3 separate regions of the Homo sapiens genome follow, and all the other regions are linked to region 1. The links come from fine-mapping of genetic effects on plasma protein levels. A gene starts in region 1. Each other region holds a variant in brackets. All regions are shown on one strand. Distances are between the middles of the regions. Region 1 holds the start of ERBB2 (erb-b2 receptor tyrosine kinase 2). Region 2 overlaps IKZF3 (IKAROS family zinc finger 3). Region 3 overlaps ERBB2 (erb-b2 receptor tyrosine kinase 2).

Evidence for each region. PIP is the posterior inclusion probability: the model's chance that the variant is causal. Protein levels are from antibody-based Olink assays in UK Biobank. Linkage for the fine-mapping came from a reference panel and not from the study's own genotypes, which makes the PIPs less certain.
Region 2: its variant is fine-mapped to the plasma level of the ERBB2 protein (UK Biobank, PIP above 0.99).
Region 3: its variant is fine-mapped to the plasma level of the ERBB2 protein (UK Biobank, PIP above 0.99). The variant lies in the coding sequence of ERBB2. If it changes the protein, the assay may bind it differently, which can mimic a change of level.

What each region holds. Positions count from the first base shown.
Region 1 is chr17:39,699,703-39,709,119 of GRCh38, forward strand. It overlaps ERBB2 (erb-b2 receptor tyrosine kinase 2), which reads left to right and starts at 362. Exons shown (of 27, transcript NM_004448.4): 1 at 362-609; 2 at 7,288-7,439; 3 at 8,619-8,832. The coding sequence starts at 537. RefSeq lists enhancers at 1,344-1,845, 1,846-2,345, 5,092-5,964.
Region 2 is chr17:39,825,036-39,837,438 of GRCh38, forward strand. IKZF3 (IKAROS family zinc finger 3) reads right to left here. Exons shown (of 8, transcript NM_012481.5): 2 at 7,063-7,116; 3 at 4,352-4,453. It also overlaps the pseudogene KRT8P34. Among named protein-coding and RNA genes, the nearest start is that of IKZF3, 33 kb to the right of the region's middle. RefSeq lists an enhancer at 10,361-10,860. The variant G/A (reference allele first, on the strand shown) is at 4,818.
Region 3 is chr17:39,713,502-39,716,499 of GRCh38, forward strand. ERBB2 (erb-b2 receptor tyrosine kinase 2) reads left to right here. Exons shown (of 27, transcript NM_004448.4): 10 at 1,785-1,858; 11 at 1,945-2,035; 12 at 2,239-2,438; 13 at 2,800-2,932. Among named protein-coding and RNA genes, the nearest start is that of MIR4728, 11 kb to the right of the region's middle. The variant C/A (reference allele first, on the strand shown) is at 1,793.

The DNA.
Region 1 (9,417 bases):
CAGGAAAGTTTAAGATAAAACCTGAGACTTAAAAGGGTGTTAAGAGTGGCAGCCTAGGGAATTTATCCCGGACTCCGGGGGAGGGGGCAGAGTCACCAGCCTCTGCATTTAGGGATTCTCCGAGGAAAAGTGTGAGAACGGCTGCAGGCAACCCAGGCGTCCCGGCGCTAGGAGGGACGCACCCAGGCCTGCGCGAAGAGAGGGAGAAAGTGAAGCTGGGAGTTGCCACTCCCAGACTTGTTGGAATGCAGTTGGAGGGGGCGAGCTGGGAGCGCGCTTGCTCCCAATCACAGGAGAAGGAGGAGGTGGAGGAGGAGGGCTGCTTGAGGAAGTATAAGAATGAAGTTGTGAAGCTGAGATTCCCCTCCATTGGGACCGGAGAAACCAGGGGAGCCCCCCGGGCAGCCGCGCGCCCCTTCCCACGGGGCCCTTTACTGCGCCGCGCGCCCGGCCCCCACCCCTCGCAGCACCCCGCGCCCCGCGCCCTCCCAGCCGGGTCCAGCCGGAGCCATGGGGCCGGAGCCGCAGTGAGCACCATGGAGCTGGCGGCCTTGTGCCGCTGGGGGCTCCTCCTCGCCCTCTTGCCCCCCGGAGCCGCGAGCACCCAAGGTGGGTCTGGTGTGGGGAGGGGACGGAGCAGCGGCGGGACCCTGCCCTGTGGATGCCCCGCCGAGGTCCCGCGGCCGGCGGGGCCAGAGGGGCCCGGACGAGCTCTCCTATCCCGAAGTTGTGGACAGTCGAGACGCTCAGGGCAGCCGGGCCCTGGGGCCCTCGGGCGGGAGGGGGCAGTTACACGGCAGCGGCTCGAGATGGCCCATCCAAGAGACTGGCGCTTTCCAGGCTCCGAGGGGCTCCGGGAACTTGTCAAAGAAGTTCTCTGAAATTGTTCAGAAAGTTTTCCCGCAAAGGGTGTATTGCGTAGAGCGCGCGCGCGCGTTTCCCCCCTTCTTGAGCCCCCTCAAGCTTTCTCAAAGCCTTTCCAGTTGGCAGCCTCCGCCTCCGGACTGGCCTGGGCTGGATTCCTTGGGGGGGTCCTCTGCCCTGCCCCTCCTCCAGCCCCTCCCCGCTCCCCTTCAGACGATTTTGGTTTGGTTGCTCCTGCTTCTGGCGGGGTCGGGTGTGTGTGTGTGTGGTGGAGTGGAGGGTGGCATAGCAACCTGTCCCAACCAGAGCCGGGGAGGAAAGGGTGGCCCGGAGGGTGGCCTCTTGCTGGGGTCTGGGTTGGGGGCGGGGGAGACGTTTGCTTTGAACAGATTCTTGGGGCCAGCTTAGGGACTGTGCTCTGTGACTTTTGGAGCGCGTGGACCATGGAGGGGTGGGGGTGGGTTTCTTGGGGTGTAAAGTGGGAGAGTTCCCAGAGAAGGAAGCTAAGAAATAAGGCCAGATGGGAGCCTAGGGAGGGCTGCGTTGTTCTGCTGCCTTTTCCTTGGTGCTGTGCGTGGGGAAGGGTGAGTGGGGGCAGTGTGTATCCTGACCCATCTGTCCACCTGTGTGCATTAATCATAAAAGCTAACATATAGCCTGGGCCAGGTATACTCTGCCAGGAACTGTTTGTGGTGTTTTGCATGCATTCTCCTTTAATCCTAGAACACCCCTATAGTGGAAGTTCTGCCAGCATTCTGGACTGAGTAGCAGTCCAGAGGTTGAGTAGCAGCTAGTAAGTGGTGGGGTCAAGATGGGACCCCAGGCAGTGCGACCCCCAACCATGCATTCGAAATCGCTATATGGATGAGTGCACCTGGAGCAATGAGGGACACTGCTCCCTGAGTCACTGGGCTGCAGGGGAGACAAAATGAAAGTGTTCTGGGAGTCGTGGGTGGTCTCCATAGGTCAGAGGGTCTGGGGAGGGAGTGGGTGTCATCGTGGCTGTGTGTTGCCCGAGGGGCCCTCTGTGAGTGAGTGCATGGCCGTGTTATCTCTGCAGGTCTACGCCAGGGTGTTCCTCAGTTGTGTGGTCTTTGTATTTGTGTGTCTGGGCTTTGTGTTGCCAAACAGCAGTCTCTCTGCTGACTTGGGGACACAGGCTGAACTCTGTCCTCTGCAGGAACTCCCTTAAGGTGCTGGGCCAGATCTGCCATAAACAGAGGGAGGTAGCCTTCTATGGCCACGCCTTCTTGCTGAGGAAGAAGGTTCCTCTCTTCCAGGGAGTACATCCTTGCCCTCCCTGTTTCCCAGACAAGCATCTTCACCTCTCATCTTCTGATGAGAAGGGTGAGGCCATACTGAGCTGTCAGGCTGAGCTGCTGCCCTTCCTCACCTTGGGCTGGGAGTTGATCAGGGAATGGCAGTTGCTGCAGAGCTGGATTTGAGGGCTGGGTTCTCTGGATGGGGCCTCCTCATGTCCTCACCCCTCAACCTGCACTATTGATTGTGTTGTGCAGGAGTTAGTTAAAAAGTCATTGCACAGCCTGGGCAACAAGGCAAAACTCTGTACAAAAAATACAAAAATTAGTTGGATGTGATTACACGTGCCTGTAGTCCCAGCTACTCCGGAGGCTGAGGCAGGAGGATCACCTGAGCCCAGGAAGTTGAGGCTTGCAGTGAGCTGTGATTGCAAATGCTCTCCAGCCTGGGTGACAGTGTGAGACTCCGTTTCAGAAAAAAAGTATACCACCCAGCTGCCTCCAGCACCCAGATTTTACCCAAGGGGTGAGGTCTGGGGCAGGAATGTGGGGGAAGGGGAGGCCTAGGGGGAGCCCCAGAGGGGTCAGGATTTTTCTGAAATCCTTTCTTAGAGGTATGGGTTTTACAAATTGCAGCAAATACATCCTTTTAATCTTGCAGAACTCCTTCATATTTTAATTCCAGTATGATTCTTCCAACAGCCTCCTCTCTTTACTATACTTGGGGAAAGTACTCATTTTATTTGTCAAGAAAAAAACAATTGAAAAGATAGGGATCAAATGTAAAAAGAAAAAATACGTGGCATTCCAAAGTCAAACACAAAGCATGTTTAATTTTCTCGTGGTTTGGGATTACCCATATTCCTGCTGTATGAACCTGTCTTGTCTTAACTTTTAAGAAATGTACGGTGTACTTCCTATATGCTAGGTTTTTATCCATGCTTTCATTTAATCTCTGTGACAGTCCTGTGAAGTAGGTGCACAGATGAGAAAATGGAAGTTCAGAGAAATGAAGCAACTTATCCAAGGCTCCCAGCTACCCAGTAATGTCCAGGGAATTTTTGGACTCTGAAGAGGAGGCATTAAGAGGTGGTTAGAGTCTTATTCCAGCCAACAATAATGGGTTGAACAAAGCCTTAGGGGCAGGCAGGTGGCCAGATGGGAGGAGAAGCGCTCCTCTTGTTCAGGCGAATGACCTTTCCATCCACTTCTCTAGGCTGTAGAAAGTGGAGCTGAGCTGGGGGCCCTGAGGTTCCCTCTTGACTTCAGAGTCCTCTCCCTTCCTGTCCAGCCAATGCCTGTCTTCCTTTTGGGCCCTACCAGCATGACAGGGGGCTGCGGGCAGGAGGGGACAGAGGCCACGTTGACACACAGGGCTGTGGGTGAGAGAGACAGCTGAAGTGTCAGCGTGAGGGGCCAGTGTGGGGCTGCGGCTGGGAGGGCTGGGGTGGGGCCCAGGGTAGTTGTGCCTGTCCTTGGGTGATGGAATGATCTGGAAAGAGATTCCTTCCCTGCCCTCCACCTGTGAGAAGCCCCTCTAGAGTGACATCTCCATCTTATGTTTGGCCACCCATCCTCCCCCTGGGAAGAGAGCCGAGGTGGGGTAAGGGATGTGTACTCTTTCAAGGAGTGGGAGAATTATTCTAGCGAATGTTTGTGTTGTCCCAGTTCTGTTTACAAAGCCTCGTCATGTTTACAGATGGCTGCGCAATTCATTACCTCATTTAACTCTCATGTACCTCCTCTGAGGGAGTAAGAGCTGTTACAGCCAAGTTTAGGTCAGTAAATATTCACCAAGTTGCAGGTACTGCAGGGCATAGAGATGAATCCGATTTAGCTTCTGCCCTGGAGGTCTGGGAACTTGCTCAAGATCACTCAGTGAGCAGCTGAGCTAGGGTTCTCAACTAAAGACCCTGGGCCCAGGCCCTGGTCTGATGTCAGGCCTGATACACCAGGTGTTTGTGGTCGGGGAATCCCAGTGTCACTTGAATGGGCTGTGACATTATGGGTCTGGGAGAGCTGAGCTTTGGGGACACAGGTCATTTTACTGTAGTATTCATGGAAACCAAGGGAAGTATTGGCTTTTCTGCTGTGAGCAAGAGGAGCAGCTGGGGCTGCAAGCTGGTGGGGAGGAGAGAACCCACCTGAGAGAAACCTCAGGACTGGGGTCAAGTCCTGACCACCAGAGTCCAGAGAGACATGAAGGACTGTGACCAGCTCTGAGCAGAGAGATGGATTCCATGACCTCAACTGGTCCCTTTTGTTCGGAGACTCGTGACTGGACTTCATTCATCCACTCATTCATTCATTCACTCAGCAGACACTTATCTAGCGCTCCCTGTGGCTGGTCCTGCCTCATACTGTCTTTGCTCTGGAGAATTGGAGGTTGGGGTTCCTGAGGGGCAGGGTCCTGGAGACAAGGACACTCCTGGGTAGAATTAGGACCTACCCCCCAGGAAATCAACGGGGACCAGGTGCCGTGGCTCACACCTGTAATCCCAGCACTTTGGGAGGCCGAGACGGGCGGATCACAAGGTCAGCAGTTCAGGACCAGCCTGGCCAACATGGTGAAACCCGCCTCAACTAAAAATACAAAAATTAGCCAGGTGTGGTGTCAGGCACCCGTAATCCCAGCTACTGAGGAGGCTGAGGCAGGAGAATTGCTTGAACCCGGGAGGCAGAGGTTGCAGTGAGCCGAGATTGCGCCACTGCACTCCAGCCTGGCGACAGGGCGAGACTCCATCTCAAAAAAAGAAAACCAATGGGACAGGGCAGATATGGGGACAATGGTAAGGAGATGGGAGAGTGGGAGGGAGGTGTCAGGAAGACCTTCTTGACTTCATGTAGGCTGGTGGGGGTGTTAGCCAGCAAGCCTCCAGTTCCCTGGGAACCGTTCTCAGGGTACCAATTTTACCACCTGTCTGCAAACACTTTAAGATTCTTAATCAGACTCAAATTGGCCACAAATCAGGTAAACAAACTCACTAGTGGGGTGGGGCTACCACCCGTTCTGACCCTCCAGCCCAACCCAGCCCAGCCACCCTGCCCTCCGTAGAGCCTGTGGTGTTTATCGGTGGCATTGGGAGAATTAGTGTGTATTTATGTTGGCGTGGGGTGTGGGGTGGATTTGTGTGTGTGCAGTTAGGCCTAGTGGAAGGAATGTGGGATCTGAAGGCAGGCCAGCCTGAGTTCCAGTCCTGCCTGTTGCTCACAAGCTTTATGAGGCGAGAGCTAACCCCTGCCAGCCTCAGTTGTCTTCTTTGCAAGATGGAGGTTGCAGCCCCAGTCTCTGGAGCATGTTATGCAGATCCACCGAGAGTGCCTGCCAGGCACACAGTAGGTGCTCAGCTCAGTTACTGTGGCGGCCCCCACTCCCCATTGTTGTTGTTTTCCTATTGCCTGGCGGCCACAGCTGGTATCCCTTGAAAAGGGCTACAGGGGGTGGAGTCGGACCCTGCCCCAGCCCTGTGGAGACCCTGGGCTTGGGCCAGGGCCTGGGGTCTGGGCCTGCAGACAGCTGTGTCTATAAAGCAGCTGAAGGGCTGAGGCCGGGGGAGGTCCTGGCAGCAGGGCGTTATTTTGGGCCTGGCCTGCCACCCCCAGCTCCTGTTTCTCTTGGGAGTCTGTTGGGGGAGGAAGTGTGGGGAAGAGGAGGGGGTGCAAGTGGGTGAGGCATGGAGTGGGGAGGCCTCCCTCAGGGACATGGACCCTTGAGTTCTATTTCTGTTCCTCCCTCCTGTTCCTCCCTCTTTGTCCTTATCTGCCTAGAGAGGTGGGAATAGAGGCCATTCTGAGTATCACTAGGAGACCACCAGTTTGTGGCCACTGGCCACTGGCCCAGGCAGGGAACCTGGGGGCTTGCCCTACCAGCCTCTCCCAGCAATCTGAAGGCAGGGGGTACCTCGTATTACCCCCTAGGATTTGACCTTAGGCTCCAACTTGCTGGGAGAGCAGTGCCTCTGGTGTCAGACCCCAAGCCAGCCCTTGTGCTGTCCCTGAATCTGCATGTAGCCTGTGGGAGGCGGAGCAGTGACCGGCAGGAATTCTGGGCAGCTCAGGCACCTGTGGGCCTGAGGGTGCCCTCTGCCCCCACCCTTCCGATCTCCTGGGCAAGACACGCCAGGTGATTCATCTCACCAGAGCAGAAAAACAAGTTCAACTGGGCACTTTAATCTCCCCTCACTGGCAGGCCTGGTGTGAGCTGCTACCCCGGCGCCCCTCACCAGGGGTGCTTTACCTCCTCTAGTATTCCTGACCTTAGTGGGCATTTCTGGTCTCAGGGATACCAGGCTGGGGTCCAAGTGGGCCAGGTGTGGCAGTTCAGCCCTATGCCCCATGGCTGATGGCTCGCGCTGGGCAGGTATGCAGGGCTGACGTAGTGCCTTTGTGGCAGCAGTTTCGTGGCACACATTCTGCCAGCTGGTTCTGGAGTCTTGCCCTGAGGAGGTGGCCAGGGTGAGGGTGCCAGCGCAGGAACCTTTGGCGCATGCTTCACCCTGGCCTGGGATCTGCAGCCTGGGTCCAGATGCCCACAACTGGAATCTGACGCTCCTTTTCTCTTCATGGGGGACTCCCAGAGGTCTCTGCAATGACCAGAGCCCCGGTTGTCCCATGCCTCAGCTGCAACTCCAGCTGACCCTCCTTCCCCACTCTCTGGGTGGCATTACGGGGGTGTGGATCCCTTGCCAAGAGGTTGGCATGTGGGTGTGCTGGAATGGCATAGGGAGAATGCACCGAGTTTGTTTGCTTGGGAGAGGGGCAGGGGGTATCCAGAAGATTCATGATTCGTCATCGCCTCTCTTGGGGGATTTTTACCCCTTTGCCCTGAGTTGTGCCTTTGGGACAAAGGAAGCCTTTCTTTGCCAGCCAACACCCTGTACTGGCGGGCGAGCTCCCCAGGGCTGGCACGCTGGGGCAGCCTCTGAATGCACAGGGTGGGCCTAGTCAGAAGAAGCCTTTCCCCTGAAATCCCTCTACTTCCCAAGCACGCAAGCTTTCTCCTGCTGTTAAACCTGCAGTGTGCAAGGGACATGGGCGGAGGGGTCCTTCAGTCAGGCTTCTCCCTGTCTGAGGTGGCATGACTTGGAGTGAGTTTGGATGGGGTGGCCAGGTCTGAGAAGGTCCCCCGCCAGTGTCCTCTGACCCATCTGCTCTCTCCTGCCAGTGTGCACCGGCACAGACATGAAGCTGCGGCTCCCTGCCAGTCCCGAGACCCACCTGGACATGCTCCGCCACCTCTACCAGGGCTGCCAGGTGGTGCAGGGAAACCTGGAACTCACCTACCTGCCCACCAATGCCAGCCTGTCCTTCCTGCAGGTGAGGCCCGTGGGCAACCCAGCCAGGCCCTGCCTCCAGCTGGGCTGAGCCCTCTGTTTACAGGTGGGTGGCAGAAGAAGGTGCCCTGCCCTTCTGTTTCCTCTCTTGTTGTGGTTTCTCAACCAGGAAGTCCTTTCTAACATCTAACCCCCATTCATTTTACTGCAGAATCAGTTGACTCTCTCTATAACGTGGCTGGCCGAGGTCATGTCTGGATGGGATGCGTCTGTGTTTCCGCTAAATCTTGTGCTCTCTTGCCAGCATGATCATGTCCCCTGTCCACCTGCTCCAGCCACTATCCCTCTCCCACTTACAGCAGAAGAAAGGGCTGGTGAGAAAGGTGGATTACAGGCCCACTTCTGCCACTGACGAGCCCTATGAATGTGGCCTACACCCCCTTAGCTTCACTGGGTCTCAGTTTCCCTATCTGTATATTGGGAGCAGTTGTGAAGCTCAGAAGAGAAATGTCTGTGAAAAGGTTATGAACAGGAGGGAGAGTGGAAACCAACCTGCTGGATCGTGTCCACAGACCCTGGAATGGGGCCACATGCTTGGTTTGTCAAATTGCAGACGCCGGCCGGGTGCGATGGCTCATGCCTGTAATCCCAGCACTTTGGGAGGCCGAGGCGGACAGATCACTTGAGGTCGGGAGTTCGAGACCAGCCTGACCAACATGGAGAAACCCCGTCTCTACTGAAAATACAAAATTAGCCAGGCATGGTGGCACATGCCTATAATCCCAGCTACTTGGGAAGGCTGAGGCAGGAGAATCACTTGAACCTGGGAGACGGAGGTTGTGGTGAGCCTAGATCGTGCCATTGTACTCCAGCCTGGGCAACAAGAGTGAAACTCCGTCTCAAAAAAAAAAAATTTGCAGACGCCATCCCATCCAGGCCTTTGCTTTCACTGATGAAGAAACTGAGATACAGAGAGGGCAGGGCACCTGTTCGGAGTTTATGAAATGCCCCCCCACCATTATCTTTCTTGATCATATAAGAATCTGGTGAGGCAAGGTAGGGCGTGATCTTTATCTCTATTTTATCGTTTTATTTAAGCGGGAACAGGACTGCTCAGTGGCTGGGGGCCTTGCCCAAGATCTCCAAGTACTGGGGAACCCCAGGGAGGCCCTGGGGGGTGGCAGTGTTCCTATTTCAGCCCCACTCTGCTTCCCCCTCCCAGGATATCCAGGAGGTGCAGGGCTACGTGCTCATCGCTCACAACCAAGTGAGGCAGGTCCCACTGCAGAGGCTGCGGATTGTGCGAGGCACCCAGCTCTTTGAGGACAACTATGCCCTGGCCGTGCTAGACAATGGAGACCCGCTGAACAATACCACCCCTGTCACAGGGGCCTCCCCAGGAGGCCTGCGGGAGCTGCAGCTTCGAAGCCTCACAGGTGGCCTTCACCGTCATTGAAACCTTCTCTTGGTTATTCAGAGCTGACCAGGGCCACTGCTAACCAGGGGGAGGCTTTGTGTGCATTAGAAATGGTGTCCCTTCTGGGCAGACGCAGGCAGAGCCCGGGAAGACGCCCTCAGAAGATTGGAAAAAGATTCCCCTTCTTCCTGGGAAGTTGTAGCTTGCGTCAGCACATATAATTCAATCGTGAGAATGCAGGCTGGGTTTTTGCCCCCACTTGGCTGAGTGAAGTGTACAGTGAACAACCTATGTAACTATTTGCTGGCCCTGGAGCCGACTCTGCCCCAGAGTCTGGGTGCCAGGTGCTTTGCCCGCATGGCCCATTTCAGTCACGCTGCAGTCCTGTCAGGAAAAAATCAGTGTTATTCTCATTCTACATATGAGAAAACTGAGGCTTGCAGATATAAGGGCCAAAAGTTACACAGCTAGTGAGTGATGGGGCTGAGTTTCAGACTCCACAGTCTCTTAACCACCAAGCAGCATGCCCAGAGTAGAGGTGAGAAGGAAGGAGAGAGCTGCGGTCCACATGAGCATCTGGACCTAGCATGGACAACTCACTCCT
Region 2 (12,403 bases), 130 kb after region 1:
GCACTCGTTCTCTCCTGCCACCCTGTGAAAAGCTGCCTTCTGCCATGATTGTAAGTTTTCTGAGGCTTCCCCATCCATTTGGAAGTGTGAGTCAATTAAACCTCTTTTCTTTATAAATTGCCCAATCTTGGGTATTTCTTCATAGCAGCATGAGAACAGACTAATACACCAGGTCATGGTAAATGCCACGGTTAAGTGGTGTCTTAAGAATGTACATGTCAGATATGATATGGTAAAGTCAGTGTGGACACAAAGAAAATTAGAACAAGGCCCAGAAAGAAGTTTATCACATTCACAGGTCCCAGAGAGGTGGTTATTATGTGCTATGCAAGATCACAGGAGAAAGCACCAGTGTTGGTCAGGAGGCAGAAAAGAGGAATGAGGAAAAACCTTAGGTCAGAGCCTTAATTGGGGTTTCTGTGGAAAAGGCAAGGCAGGGCTGGGTAAACAGTTTAGGATTGGCTAGTTTTAATAATTCTGGTGGGCTCTAAAGCATAGAGATGGTCTCTGGTTGACTGGTATCTGGCCCTGGGATGACTTAGGGTAGGTGAAATATAGGCTTGGTGTGTGAGAATTGGGTAATGGCTTATGGCAAAAACCTGTGAGTACTTTCCAGCAATGACAACAATTGGATTTTGGACCAGAGAATTTCCATTTGAGGGGAAATTATTAGCCTGCTATTGAATATTAATTGAAATTGCTCTTATGATTGAAGGACAAAAAAATAATTTTAAAACCTAAAATATCAACGAAGTCTTGGGTGATGTCAGAGAAGTGTTCTAATGGGGAGAGCATTGCCCAGAAGAGTTCTATAATAACATAGAAATAGTTTATAGAGAATCATGGTACCTTAGGAATGAAAGGATGATATACTCAGGGGCAGGGATCCTCTTTTCCCCTACAATTGACTTTGGAACTATGTGAGGAGCTGCTGGATTCTATCATCACTTAGACAGTGCCCTATAAAGTAGTCTTTGACCAACAAAGAGATGCTTGATTTGTGGACGGTAGTTTTTTTGTTTGTTGAGACAGGGTCTCATTCTATCATCCAGCCTAGAGAGCAGTGACACGATCAGGGTTCACTACAGCCTCAACCTCCCAGGCTCAAACGATCCTACCACCTCAGTCCCCCAAGTAGCTGGGACCACAGGCATATGCCACCATGCCTAGCTAATTTTTAAATGTTTTGTAGAGACGAGGTCTCACTATATTGCCCAGGTTGGTCTTGAACTCCTGAGCTCAAGCAATCCTCCTGCCTTGGCCTCCCAAAGTGTTAGGATTACAGGCATAAGCCACCATGCCTGGCTGTGGATGGTAGTTTTAAGGTAAATGGACAACATCCTGTTTGGAACACCACAACTGTAATTAAAGAAGGTAAAAACAAATCAGCTTGGTGAGCTGAATAATCTGCTGTTTTCCTAGAAGTGATGGAAGAACTGAACAGTGATACATGCCCATATGTTTCAGTTTCTGATTCATGGGCAATGGCCAACAGCCTGGCCATGTGGTAAGGCAAGAGTGCAATGGAAACTTGGCATATTAAAGGGACTCTCATATGGGACAAAGCCCTGTGGAAATCACTATGGGAATTTGAGGGGTGCATTAAAGTAGGACATGTCAATGCTCGGTAAAAGACCCCCCTTCCAGATTTGGAAGCTGATCAGAACCAATTAGTAGGTATCACAGTGTGCGTGTTTGAGGTGAGCACGTGGGTCCATAAAATGAGTAGACAGGATGGGGGATGCTACAGCCACTGCAGAAGATGGGCTGAATTTGGACATATTTCCCTTGGACCTCCTGAGGCACAAAATAGCAACAAACTATTATGTCTGCCAATAAGAGAGACAGTTACTATAGGTGACTATGGGGAAGATTCCCCAGGGGGAAGACCCCACACATAGTTGGCAAGTGGATTGCATTGAAGAGCCAATGCTGGTAGTCCCAAGGGCTACAAATCATTTTTGTTTTTGTTCTTTTTTTGAGATGGAGTCTTACTGTGTCACCCAGGCTGGAGTGCAGTGGTGCAATCTTGGCTCACTGCAACTTCTGCCTCCCGAGTCCAAGCAATTCTCCTGCCTCAGCCTCCCCAGTAGCTGGGATTACACGTGAGTACCGCCACACCTGGCTAATTTTTGTATTTTTAGTAGAGATGGGGTTTAACCAGTTGGTCAGGCTGGTCTCGAACTCCCAACCTCAAATGATCTACCTGCCTCAGCCTCTCAAAGTGCTGGGATTACAGGTGTGAGTCACCACGGCCGGCCTGTTGTTGTTCTTTTGAGACAGGATCTCACTGTGTTGCCCAGGCTGGAGTGCAGTAGCAGGATCACAGCTCACTGCAGCCTCAACCTCCCAGGCTCAAGTGATCCTCCAGCCTTAGCCTCCTGAGTAGCTGGGACTACAGGCACACACCACCACACCTGGCTAATTTATTTGTATTATTATAATTTTTTTTTATAGAGATGAGGCCTCACCATGTTGCCCAGGCTGGGCCCAAATTCCTGGGCTCAAGAGATCCTCCTGCTTCAGCCTCTCAAAGTGCTGGGATTACAGGTGTGAGCCACTGCACCCAACCTATAAATTGTTTTTGACGGGGATAAACACAGACTCTGGAAGGGGCTTTGCTTACCTGGTTGTATACACAAATGGTCAGTACCACGAAAGAACCAGAACAGAAGATATTGCACCAATTTGAATGGCTGAGCCACATTTCTTTAGACTAAGGAGCACTCTACTTACAGCCCATAATGTCAAACAATGGGCAAAGAGCTATCCTCCTCAGAGTAGTAGTTTGATAGATATCTAAAATAGGGTAAGGTATAGGTGTGAAGGGTTGGTTTATGCATTTGCACAAGTGTGAGGTCACATTGAAATGAGCTAAGGGAGTGTTCCCACTAGGTAGATTCCTCTGTTTTTCTGGTGGATTAGGGAAGAGGAGGTGGGGGAGGATGCTGATATGACTATACAATTCTTGCCAAAGAGGAGGATATTGGTGTGATGACTATTCTTTTTTTCCTTCCCTACATTGTCACATCAGCTTTCTCTTTCCTACCAGATGCAGTGGTTGCAATACCAGCACTGTAATTACAAGTGCCAGAAACAGAGATGATTTCTAAAGCAAGAAAGTGTAACCGTAGCTTTAAACCTTTATGTCAGAACTCCTAAGGGCCTGATGAGGCAGGCTGTGCCTTTACCCCATCTGGCAAAATTGGGGTTAACATTGAATGCAGATGTATTGCCTAGTGGTAGAAATAGCCCACTAGTTCCGTACCTGTGTAACCCTATCCTGTATGTATGGGAGTTGACTGAGGGAGAGGTGCTTGCTAGACTAGTATTGCTGCCTACGATCTAGACCAGTGCAGTGGTCAAACCTAATATTCCTCCCAAAGGTGGGAAAGTTTGGGCATAAACAGTAAGAAGGAGGAAGAGTAGCTGAGAGTAAAGGAATGAATAAATGAGTTATGTAACAAGTCCTGTGAGTCATCCTAGCAAATTATTAAACATGTGGAGGGGAGTCCCCGATTTTGTAGCTAAGTCAGACAAAAGTGCAGGTAACCTGGGGACCTGGTACTTGAGACTGTTGTCTAAAGTAGGGAGAGTACTGTGCAGTACTGTGAGACTGAGCCTGTAACCTGTGCGGTCTACGCAAACATCAGGAATTACAATCAGAATTGAATTGAAGTGGGCTGGGTATGGTGGTTCATGCCTGTAATCCCAGGACTTTGGAAGGCTGAGTTTGGCAATCACTTGAGGTCAGGAGTTCCTGGCCAGCCTGGCCAACATGGTAAAACTCCGTCTCTATTAAAAAAAATACAAAAATTAGCCGGGCATGGTGGTGGGCGCCTGTAATCTCGGCTATTTGGGAGACTGAGGCAGGAGAATCACTAAAACATGGGAGGCGGAGGTTGCAGTGAGCCGAGATTGCGCCACTGCACTCTGGCCTGGGCGACAAAGTGAAACTCCGTCTCAAAAAAAAATAATAATAATAATTGAATTGAATTGTTGGACACCAAGTCATTGTCGGAAAACCAGAAAATTGGTTTGTTGGTGTCAGAAAACACCCCAGACAAACTTTCTACAATAAACATGTATTACTTTTATAATGGAAAATAGTCAAACATCATGTTTTAAGTGAAGTTAATATAATTGGAACACTGGATAAGCACCTTAAATTCTCAAAATTTGCTGATAACCTACAACTATGAAATGCAAATATTTGTGAAATTAACAAAACAGAATCACTCCTAACTAAACCTACAATTGCAAGTTTTCCTTGGAGAGCTGATTTCTTCTCTACACTAAGCCTAAGCAATATCTACAGGCATCAGTGTTTAGTCTGCACACTACGGCTCACCTCCTATGTCTTCATCTTCATTGGCTGGGCCTTCTCCACTGTCCACATTTTCCATTTCATGAGATTTGGTTAAACTGTAGTCATTCAAAACCGCTGCACTTTCTAAAAGATAAAAGGAATTTTAAGTATGTGGTTCAACGTTAAAGGATTTTTATAAATATATATTAAGTAGACCCCCATTTAACTTTCAGCTTCACACAATCCTTTAGTGACAGATAGTACCCCTTCACACATACCCAAAAGGGATGTATACATGAAAACTCTTGAGGTTTAGAAATAAGCCCAGGGTTCGCAGTGGCTCACGCCTGTAATCCCAGCACTTTGGGAGGCCGAGATGGGCAGATCACCTGAGGTCAGGAGTTCGAGACCAGCCTGGCCAACATGGTGAAACCCCATCTCTACTAAAAATACAAAAATTAGTTGGGCATGGCGGTGCATGCCTGTAATCCCAGCTACTCGGGAGGCT[G/A]AGGCAGGAGAATCACTTGAACTCGGGAGGTGGAGGTTGCAGTGAGCCAAGATAGCACCACTGCACTCCAGCCTGGGTGACAGAGTGAGACTTCGTCTCAAACAAAAAAAAAAGAGAAAAGAAATATGCCCAGGGTTCATGTACCCTCTGAATACACACAACTTTCTTGAATATTTCTTTCATCTGAGTTAAAGGGCACTCATGTTCCTTCTGGAGAAAAACTATCTCTCCATTGGTATATCTCACGATATTCAGTAGGATGCCATTGCTATTTATGACAAAGTAGTGACCAGAAATACTAAGCGTGCAAACACTGGCATAACCTAATTTGGGAAAGATGCTTTCCTAGGAGGAAGATCTGTAAGCTTTCTGTATGCCAAATTCTGTTTTTCCCTTCTGTTCACATTATAAATGTGATTCTGTGGAAAACATATTGGACCCCAAGTTTCTTTATTTGTTTGAACATTTACTGAATGTTGACAAGGCTACAGATATGAATAAGTCATTATGTCTTCAAGGAGCTCATACTTTGAGATATAGATAAGAGAAGCCCACAACTCTAACACATGGTAGGCTCAGACAAAGGATTAAATAAAGGAAATACAAAGTGTTATTAAAGTTCATAAGTGAAAGGGAGCAGACATAATAAAGACATGCTTAAACAAACAGCAAACTTGTTACAAAATAAGTTTAAGAGAAATGTATAATAAATATTGATAATACTAGAAGAAAAAGGAACAATGCAACTGGAATTATTTTCACATATAGGCATAGTAGCTTAACAAAAAGATGATAGCAGAAGAAATGAACTGAAAAGTTACCCTCTTTTTATCTAACTCCTTCCCAATCTTCAATAAAATATTTGCTGAGTTCCCATTAATATAAAAAATAGTCAAAGACACTGAATCCTGTGGCACTGAGGCTGGGCTGAAGTAGGGAGGTAACTAGAAGCTCTGCAGTGGCACTCCTTTCAGCTGAGCCATGACCAAACACACGCGGGAGCGAAAGAGAAACACGTTTCACAAAACCCATCACTAAGAGCCCCTGAAAATGTGGTCACCATGGACTCAGTGTTTGATTTATGAATATCTGAAGTTTCTAATTTCTGCATATTATGATGTATACTCTGTGAACTCTAAGATACCATTCTAAACAATGGTTCACTTTTCTCAAGCCTGAAATGACTAAAATATAGTGGACACCTAAACAATTAATATGAGATTTAGGTTCAGTTAAAAGATGTGATTGGCCGGGTGCGGTGGCTCATGCCTGTAATCCCAGCACTTTGGGAGGCCGAGGCGGGCGGATCACCTGAGGTTGGGAGTTCGAGACCAGCCTGACCAACGTGGTGAAACCCCGCCTCTACTAAAAATACACCAGGCATGGTGGTGCATGCCTGTAATCTCAGCTACTCAGGAGGCTGAGGCAGGAGAATGGCTTGAACCCGGGAGGCTAAGGTTGTGGTGAGCCGAGATCACACCATCGTACTTCAGCCTGGGCAACAAGAGCGAAATTCCGTCTCAAAAAAAAAAGAAAGAAAGAAAGATGTGATTACAAGTTACAGTAACACAAAAAGGCATTTCAGTGATAAATTAAATTTTGTAATATAATGTAAGCTTTGATTCACACAGTGAGTTAATCAATGGAGGACACAGAAGTTATTTTCAGGAAATAAATTATTGTAAATGTTTATAATTTATTCTAGAGCAGGGATCAGTAAACTATGGCCTGAGGTACAAGTCTGACCATAGCCTGCTTCTGTGTGGGCCCAAGAGGTAGGAATGGTTTTTACATTTTTTAAGGGTTGTAAGAAATACAAAAAATAATACGTGACAGAGACCATATGTGGCCTGCAAAGTCTAAATATTTACTATCTGGCCCTTTACAAAAAAGTTTGCAGACCACTGTTCTACAGTAAAAATCGCAAGTCATTCAAATACAAGCTACTATATTATTCAACAAAAACTGTCTTCAGAGCAATGAGCTGAAAAATCAAAAACAAACAAACAAACAAACAAACAGTGATCAACATTAGGTAGTGTATGTTTGGCCCTAAGATGCTAAAGAACTTACATGATCTAAATGGATGAGTTATTTTTTCATCAGCAACAGACAACCATATTTAAAAAAAAACACACACACATTTCCATAGCATTTTTACTGCAACCAGAATAAGCACATTCCTCTCTCTTTGGTATTTTTTTTAGTAAAGGTATATTTCCAGAGAGGAAAGACCTGATGTTACCTGCGGGCACAGACTGCTCCTGAGTGCTTTTCAGTTCCGCATTTGTTTGTATATCTGAAAAGAAAGAGGTTATAAATATTAGCTACTTAGGGTACATTTCTACAGGTTTGAGCATTCCAAATTTAATAAGGGATACCATTTCGGAAAACTTAACAGCAGAATTCCTCTTTCAGAGCAAGATTACTCTTTCTCTATATTCTCCCTAAAAGCCTTTCAAGGAGCATGAAAAAAAAATATTGATGCAGCAATGTTACTCTAAGAACTTTCTGCCAGAGATCTACTTACACCAAGAACAATATGCAAAAAGTGGGTTCCATTAGAAATAATTTCATATATTCTTTATTCTTCCCCAATATTTTATTATGAACACATAGAAAAAAAGAGTTCAAAGTGGTATATATATATATATGTACATATATATGTACATATATATAATGAAATACTATTCAGCAATTAAAAAGAATAAAATCATGTCATTTGCAGCAATATGGATGGAGCTGGAAGTCACTATGTTAAGTGAAATAAGTCAGGCACAGAAAGACAAATATCACATGTTCTCATTCATATATGACAGTAAACACGTTGATCTCATGGAGGTGGAAAGTAGAATGATAGACAGGGTGTGTGGGTGGGAATGGGGGATGAAGAGAGATTAGTTAATGGGTAAAACATATAGTTACATAGAAGGCATAAGCTCTAATGTTTGACAGCAGAGTAGGGTGACTATAGTTAACAACGACGTATTATATATTTCAAAATAGCTAGAAGAGAGGACTTGAATTGTTTCCAACACATAGAAATGATAAATACTCAAGGTGATAAACATTCCAAATTCCCTGACTTGATTATTATATATTCTATGCATGTAACAAAATATCACATGTGCCCCATAAATATGTAAAATATTATGTATCAATAAAAAATTTTAAAAAAAGAACTGCACAGTTGAACATCCATTACTCACCCTCTGGATTCTACAATTAACATTTTGCTATTTTTGCTTTCTCACATATGTTTCCACCCATTCATCTCTCAATCCATTCATCGATCCAGCTTTTTCAACGCATTGCAAAATAAGTTGCAGATATCAGTATACCTCAGTCCTAACATTTCAGCATGATTATTATTAACTAAAATTCAATATCTGTTTACAAGATTTTAAAAAGTAAATTTTACATACAGTGATATGCATGGATCTTAAGTGTACCATTCAATGAGTTTTTAAAAATGCATATCCTCATGTAATGCAAACCCCTATCAAGATACAGAACATTACCATCATCCCAGAAAAGCTCCCTCACATCTCTTCCTAGTCAATTCCCACCCACATACTCCAGAGACAACTACTGTTTTGACTTTTTCCACCATAGATTAGTTTAGCCTATTTTAGAACTTCATAAAAACAGAATCACACAGACATATGGTATAAATTATTTTGCCCGAGGCTTCTTTCACTCAACATAATGTTTTGAGATACATCCATTCTGTGGTGTTTATCAGTAGTTCATTCTTTTTTATTGCTAAGTAGTATTCCATATGAATATCCCAGTTTGTTTATCCATTCTCCTATTGATGGACACCTAGACTGTTTCCAGTTTGGGCTATTTATAAGTCAAACTACTATGATATTCCTTTTTAAAATAATAAACTTTTAAATTTTAGAGTAGTTTTAAATTTATGGAAAAATTGCAAAGATAGCACAGAGAGTTCCCATATACCCCACACCCAATTTCCCCTATTATTAACATCTTATATTAGTATGGTACATCAGTTATAATTAATGAATATATATTCATACATTATTACTATCTAAGTATTCAGATTTCCTTAGTTTTCATCTAATGTCCTTTTTCTGTTGCAGGATCCCTTCCAGGATCCCACATTACATTTAGTCATCTTGTCTCCTTAGGCTCCTCTTGGTTGGGACAGTTTCTCAGACTTTCCTTGTTTTGATGATCTTGACAGTTTTGAGTACTGGTCAGGTATTTTGTAGAATGTCCCTCAACTGGGATGTGTTTGTTTTTCTCATGATTAGACTGGAGCATGATCATCCTTGCACAAGTATTTCTGTGGTCATATGCTTTCATGTCTCTTGAGTCAATACCTAGGTGTGGAATTACTGGGTTATAGGGTAGGAGGCATATATCTAGTTTCAACACAGTGAAACTAGAACTTGTTCAAAAGTGCTTCTTCCCTCTACTTTGGGCTTAACTTACTCTGCTTCTGCCCTCTTAAGGTGAAATTTTAGTGACTGACTTTATTCCTTTCTTCTTTTCTAATTGTAAACATTTAAAGCTATAAGTTTTCCTGTAAGCATTGCTTTAGCTGCATCTCATAAATGCTGATGTTTTGATTATAATTCAGTTCTAATTTCCCTCGAGTCTTCTGTGATCCACTGGTTATTTATAAGTGTTTAATTTCCAGATATTTGGGGGAATTCGGGAATTCTTTAGCTAACTTGTTATTGAAGTCAAATTCCATTGCACTACAGTCAGAGAACACAGTCTGTGTGACTGTAGTCCTTTTAAAAGTATTAAGACTGGTGTTCTTGGTGAATGTGCCATGTGTAGTTGAGACATATGTATGTTCTGGTTTTTGTTGGTTTTCTTTGTTTGTTTTGTTTTGCTTTGCAGATCTGGCTGAGGCTTTATTTTGGAGGAAAAAAAAATGATGTAATTGTTTTGTAGCTGGAGGCATGGGCAAGGGGGGTATCCCAGGCAGTAAACTCCCCATGGGTGGGCTGAGGGTTAGGGCTGAGCCTCAGGTGGGTCTCCTGTTCCCTATACTCCCCTGCACAGTGGCCTCCTCCACAGGCTCTGGAGAAGCCATGGGAGGGGGTAGGCTGGGAGGGGCTGCTATGGCCTTTCACCTGGGCAGGACATCAGAGGACTGGGACACCAGCTTCCCATCGTGGTCTTGATCTTCTTCACAACCACAGCCCTAGAGAAGCAGGCACAGCCAAAGGAGCTGGAGCCCCCGCCAGAGCCAAAGCTGGATCCCAAGCCATAGCTGAGGCCAGGGCTTGTAAGGCCCCTGTAGGCTGAGCTCAGCCCACCTGAGTAGCCCCTGGTGGTCTTCATATGGATACTCATGCTCTGCATCCCAGACTTCAGCTGGCTCTCCTTGCCCTCCAGCAACTTCCTGTAGGTGGCGATCTCAATGTCCAGGGCCAGCTTGATGGTCATCAGCTCCTGGTACTTGAGCAGCTGACGCGCCACGTCCTGCTTGGCCCACTGTAGGGCGGCCTCCAGCTTGGACCCCCTGGCATTGGCATCCTTAATGGACCGCTCCCCACACATACACAATGGCGGCCTCCAGGGAAGCCCTCTGGCCTTTGAGGCCCTCTGTCTCAGACTGGAGCCGGCTGATGTTCCAGTTTATCTTGGAGATCTCCGTCTTTGTACAACGCAGGTCATCCTGTGCTTCCCAGGCAGGGTCTGCAGCTCCTCATACTTGATCTGGTGCATGCTGTCAGCCTTGGCCTGGCTGCGGTTGGCGATCTTCTCATACTGGGCCTCGACCTCAGCAATGATGCCGTCCGTGTCCAGGGAGCAGCTGTTATGCGTGGACAGCCCCACAGATGTGTCCAAGATCTGGGACTGGAGCTCCCAGATCTCCTCTTCATACAGCTGCCTGAGGAAGCTGATCTTGTAAGCTTGCCATCCAGGTAAGACTCCATCCAGCTCCACCCTATTCATGTATGCCTCATCCACATCCTTCTTGATGAGGACAATTTTATTCTCCATCTCTGTATGCTTACTGATCTCATCCTCGTACTTGTTCTTGAAGTCCTCCACCAGCCCCTGCATGTTGCCAAGATCTGCCTCCAGTTTCAGCTTCTCCTGGCCTAGAGTGTCCAGCTGCCACGGAGGTTTGTTGATGTAGCTCTTGGACATGTTGTCCATGCTGCTCCAAGCTGTCTTCTGCTGCCGCAGGAGGCTCTACTTGGTCTCCAGCATCTTGTTCTGCTGCTTCAGGAACCGCGATGAAGGGGGCAAACTTGTTGAGGGTCTTAATCTGCTCCTTCTCCTGAGTGCACACGGCCTGGATGTTGGGGTCCACCTCCAGCTTAAGGGGGCTCAGCAGGCTCTGGTTGACCATGATGGCTGTGATGCCTCCTATAACCACCAGCTCGGCCATAGCCTCCACCCAGACCCATGCTGGCACCCAGGACACCCTGGACACTGCTGCTGCTGCCCACTTGGGAGAAGCTCGAGGAACTGACGCAGGCACCAGGCCTACTCATGTTGGAGTGGCTGCTGAAGGTCCGGGGCCAGAGGTGGACACCCTGTAGAACTTCTGGGTCACCCTGATGGACATGGTGGAGGCGGGAGTGGAGGCAGGTGGGCAGAAACAGGGGGAGATTCAATAAGTAGTGGAGAAACTGCTTCTAGGTATTCTGCAGTTCTCAAGTGTACTGTTTAATAAATGTTAATTAAATCAAGGTAGTTGACAATGTCATTCAGATCTATGGATATACTAATTTTTGACTAGTTGTTTAGTTGCTGAAAAAGGAGTATTAAAATCTCCAAATATGACTGTTGATTTGTCTATTTCTCTCTGTTCTAGGGACTATAAAATATATCTTTAATTTTCCAGGCTTCTTAGAGTTAAAATTATACACTTCACATAAAATGTAAAAAGCTTGCAACCATTTAGGCCCATTTCCTACCCTCCAACCTTTATACTATAGTTGTCATATGTATCACATCTGCATATACTTTAAACCTTACCATACAATGCTAATTCTTGCTTTGAATAGTCATATTGTATTTTAAAGATTAAAATGAAAAAATAGTACTTTCTAATTACCCACATATTTAACATTTCTGGTGCCTTTTTTTTCTTTTTTTGAGATAGGGTCTCACTGTGTTGCCAGGCTGGAGTGCAGTGGCACAATCATGGTTCACTGCAGCCTCGACCTCCTGGGCTCAAGCAATCCTCCCACCTCAGCCTCCCAAGTAACTAGGACTACAGAAGCACCACCATGCCTGGCTAATTTAAAAAAAATTCTTTTGTAGGGACGGGGGTCTCACTGTGTTGCCCAGGTTGGTCTCAAACTCCTGGGCTCAAATGATCCTCCCACCTCAGCCTCCCAAAGTGTTAGGATTACAGGTGTGAGCCACTGTGCCTGGCCTGGTGCTTTTCATTTTTTCATAAAGATTTGAGTTCTGATCTGGTATCACGTCCCTACAGTCTAAAGAACTTTAGCATTTTTAATAGTGCAATTATCTGAGGGACTTTTCTTGTTTTCAATTATTTGCAAATGTCTTTACTTTGTCTTCAATCTTATAGGATATTTTTACTAGATATAGAATTCTGAGTTTACAGGGTTTTTTTC
Region 3 (2,998 bases), 11 kb after region 1:
GCACTTTGGGAGGCCGAGGCAGGCAGATCACTTGAGGTCAGGAGTTCAAGACCAGCCTGGCCAACATGGTGAAACCCCATCTCTACTAAAAAATATAAAAAATTAGCCAGGCTTCCTGGCATGCGCCTATCATCCCAGCTACTTGGGAGGCTGAGGCAGGAGAATTGCATGAACTCGGGAGGTGGAGGTTGTAGTGAGCTGAGATTTCGCTATTGCACTCCAGCCTGGGCGACAGAGTGAGACCCTGTCTCAAAAAGAAAAAAAAAAAAAAGGGTCAGGCGCCGTGGTGCACACCTGTAATCCCAGCACTTTGGGAGGCTGAAGCAGGAAGATTGCTTGAGCCCAGGAATTCAAGAACAGCGTGGGCAACATAGTGAGATCCCATCTCTACAAAAAAACACAAAAAATTAGCCGGGCATGGTGGTACGCACCTGTAGTCTCAGCTACTAGGGAGACTGAGGTGGGAGAATCACCTGAGCCTGGGAGGTGGAGGTTGCAGTGGGTTGAAATCATGTCACTGTACTCCAGCCTGGGTGACAGAATGAGACCCTGTCTCAAAAAAAAAAAAAAAAAAAAAATTCCCTTTCACACTTCCTTTACCTCCACTCCCCTTTCCAGAGGGGGCCATGGTTAACAGTGTGTGTGTTCACCTAGACCGTTTATGCATCTGTAGACACACACACAGTGAAGTGTGGTTTTCGTCGTTTTGGTGGGGAGGTTGGTTTCTGTAAATGGGAACATATAGGGAGCACTGTCTGCACCTTGCTTTGAGAGCCGGTCATGACAGTTCCCATTGAACTGCCTTGTTCTTTCAATAGCTGCAGAGCAGGTGGCGGCAAGGAGAGGCAGCTAAGAGCCCAGACTTGGGAGCCAGACTGCCTGGGTTTGAAACCCGGCTCTACCACTTACTAGGCATGTGACCCTTGTGCTGTGCCTCAGTTTCTTCATCTGTAAAGTGGGGGCAAGAACAGTCCCAACTTCATAAGATGGTTATACCACCATGCCTGGCCAGATGATTATAAAGTTTGAATGAGTTAATATTTGTAAAGCTCTTAGAACAGTGCCTGGCAGATACTAGGTGCTCCTAAATGTTGGTTTTTATTATGTGGCTGGGTGGCTCGGGGTTTTATTTAACAGCTCCCCTATTTACTAATAGACATTTAGATCATGTTCCATTTTCACTCTTACAAACAGTTCCACTTTGTGTGTGGCTCTGGGAACATGGGCCAGTGTCTCCCTAGGCCACATTCCTAGAAATAAGATTTCTTTTCTTTTTTTTTTTTTTTTGAGACAGAGTCTCGCTTTATCGCCAGGCTGGTGTGCAGTAGTGTGATCTCGGCTCACTGCAACCTCTGCCTCCCGGGTTCAAGTGATTCTCCTGCCTCAGCCTCTCGAGTAACTGGGACTATAGGCGCGCGGCACCACACCCAGCTAATTTTTGTATTTGTAGTAGAGATGGGGTTTCACCATGTTGGCCAGGATGGTCTCCATCTCTTGACTTCGTGATCCGCCCGCCTCGGCCTCCCAAAGTGCTGGGATTACAGGCGTGAGCCACTGAGCCCAGGCAGAAATAAGATTTCTAGATCAAAGGATATAAATACTGTTTTGATAGATGTTGCCGAACTAAGGCCTGGGCTTTGAAGCCCAGGATGGGAACAGCTGGGCTCGATGGGCAAAGGGTTTGAGTGAAGGCATTCATGGTGGGGAGTGGCTGGCATGGCCAGTGCTGGGAGTGATGTCCACCCTGTTCCTGGCCCTGCTGACTCCTCTCCTGACCCCTCCAGGGACCCAG[C/A]CTCCAACACTGCCCCGCTCCAGCCAGAGCAGCTCCAAGTGTTTGAGACTCTGGAAGAGATCACAGGTGGGCTCTGTCTCTGCATCCTGTTCTGCAGGGGCTGGGAGTCCTTGTCCTGTCCCCACTCCTTTAATCTCACCCTCTGCCTGCAGGTTACCTATACATCTCAGCATGGCCGGACAGCCTGCCTGACCTCAGCGTCTTCCAGAACCTGCAAGTAATCCGGGGACGAATTCTGCACAAGTGAGCACTGAGAAAGAGGGGGCCTGATGGGGAGGAGTCCCAGGGAGGAGTCCCTGTGGGAAGCTTTGGGCCTGAGGGAGTACTCCTGTAGCAGTAACCTTTCCATGAAAGTCTGCAGAGTGTGCTGGGGATGGAGGAAGATGAGAATAGCCTTTGCTGACCGGGAAGGGGTCCGTGGTAAGGTGCCCACCTTTCTCCCATAGTGGCGCCTACTCGCTGACCCTGCAAGGGCTGGGCATCAGCTGGCTGGGGCTGCGCTCACTGAGGGAACTGGGCAGTGGACTGGCCCTCATCCACCATAACACCCACCTCTGCTTCGTGCACACGGTGCCCTGGGACCAGCTCTTTCGGAACCCGCACCAAGCTCTGCTCCACACTGCCAACCGGCCAGAGGACGAGTGTGGTAAGACAGGGAGCCCAGTGTGCGCACTCCCCATCTGCCAGCACACAGCAGTGCCCAGGGGGCCCTGGCAGCAGCGTTCTTGGACTTGTGCAGACTGCCCGTCTCTGTGCACCCTTCTTGACTCAGCACAGCTCTGGCTGGCTTGGCCTCTTGGCATGGCTTCTCTAGCTGGGTCCTACCTGCCTTGGCATCCTTCCCTCCCCCTCTGTTTCTGAAATCTCAGAACTCTTCCTCTCCCTACATCGGCCCCACCTGTCCCCACCCCTCCAGCCCACAGCCATGCCCACAGCCAGTTCCCTGGTTCACTTGGACCTGGGGCCTCCCCTAAAAGTCCCCTGCGGTCCCTTCCTCCTCACTGCAGTGGGCGAGGGCCTGGCCTGCCACCAGCTGTGCGCCCGAGGGCACTGCTGGGGTCCAGGGCCCACCCAGTGTGTCAACTGCAGCCAGTTCCTTCGGGGCCAGGAGTGCGTGGAGGAATGCCGAGTACTGCAGGGGTATGAGGGGCGGAGGAGAGGGTGGCTGGAGGGGTGCATGGGGCTCCTCTCAGACCCCCTCACCAC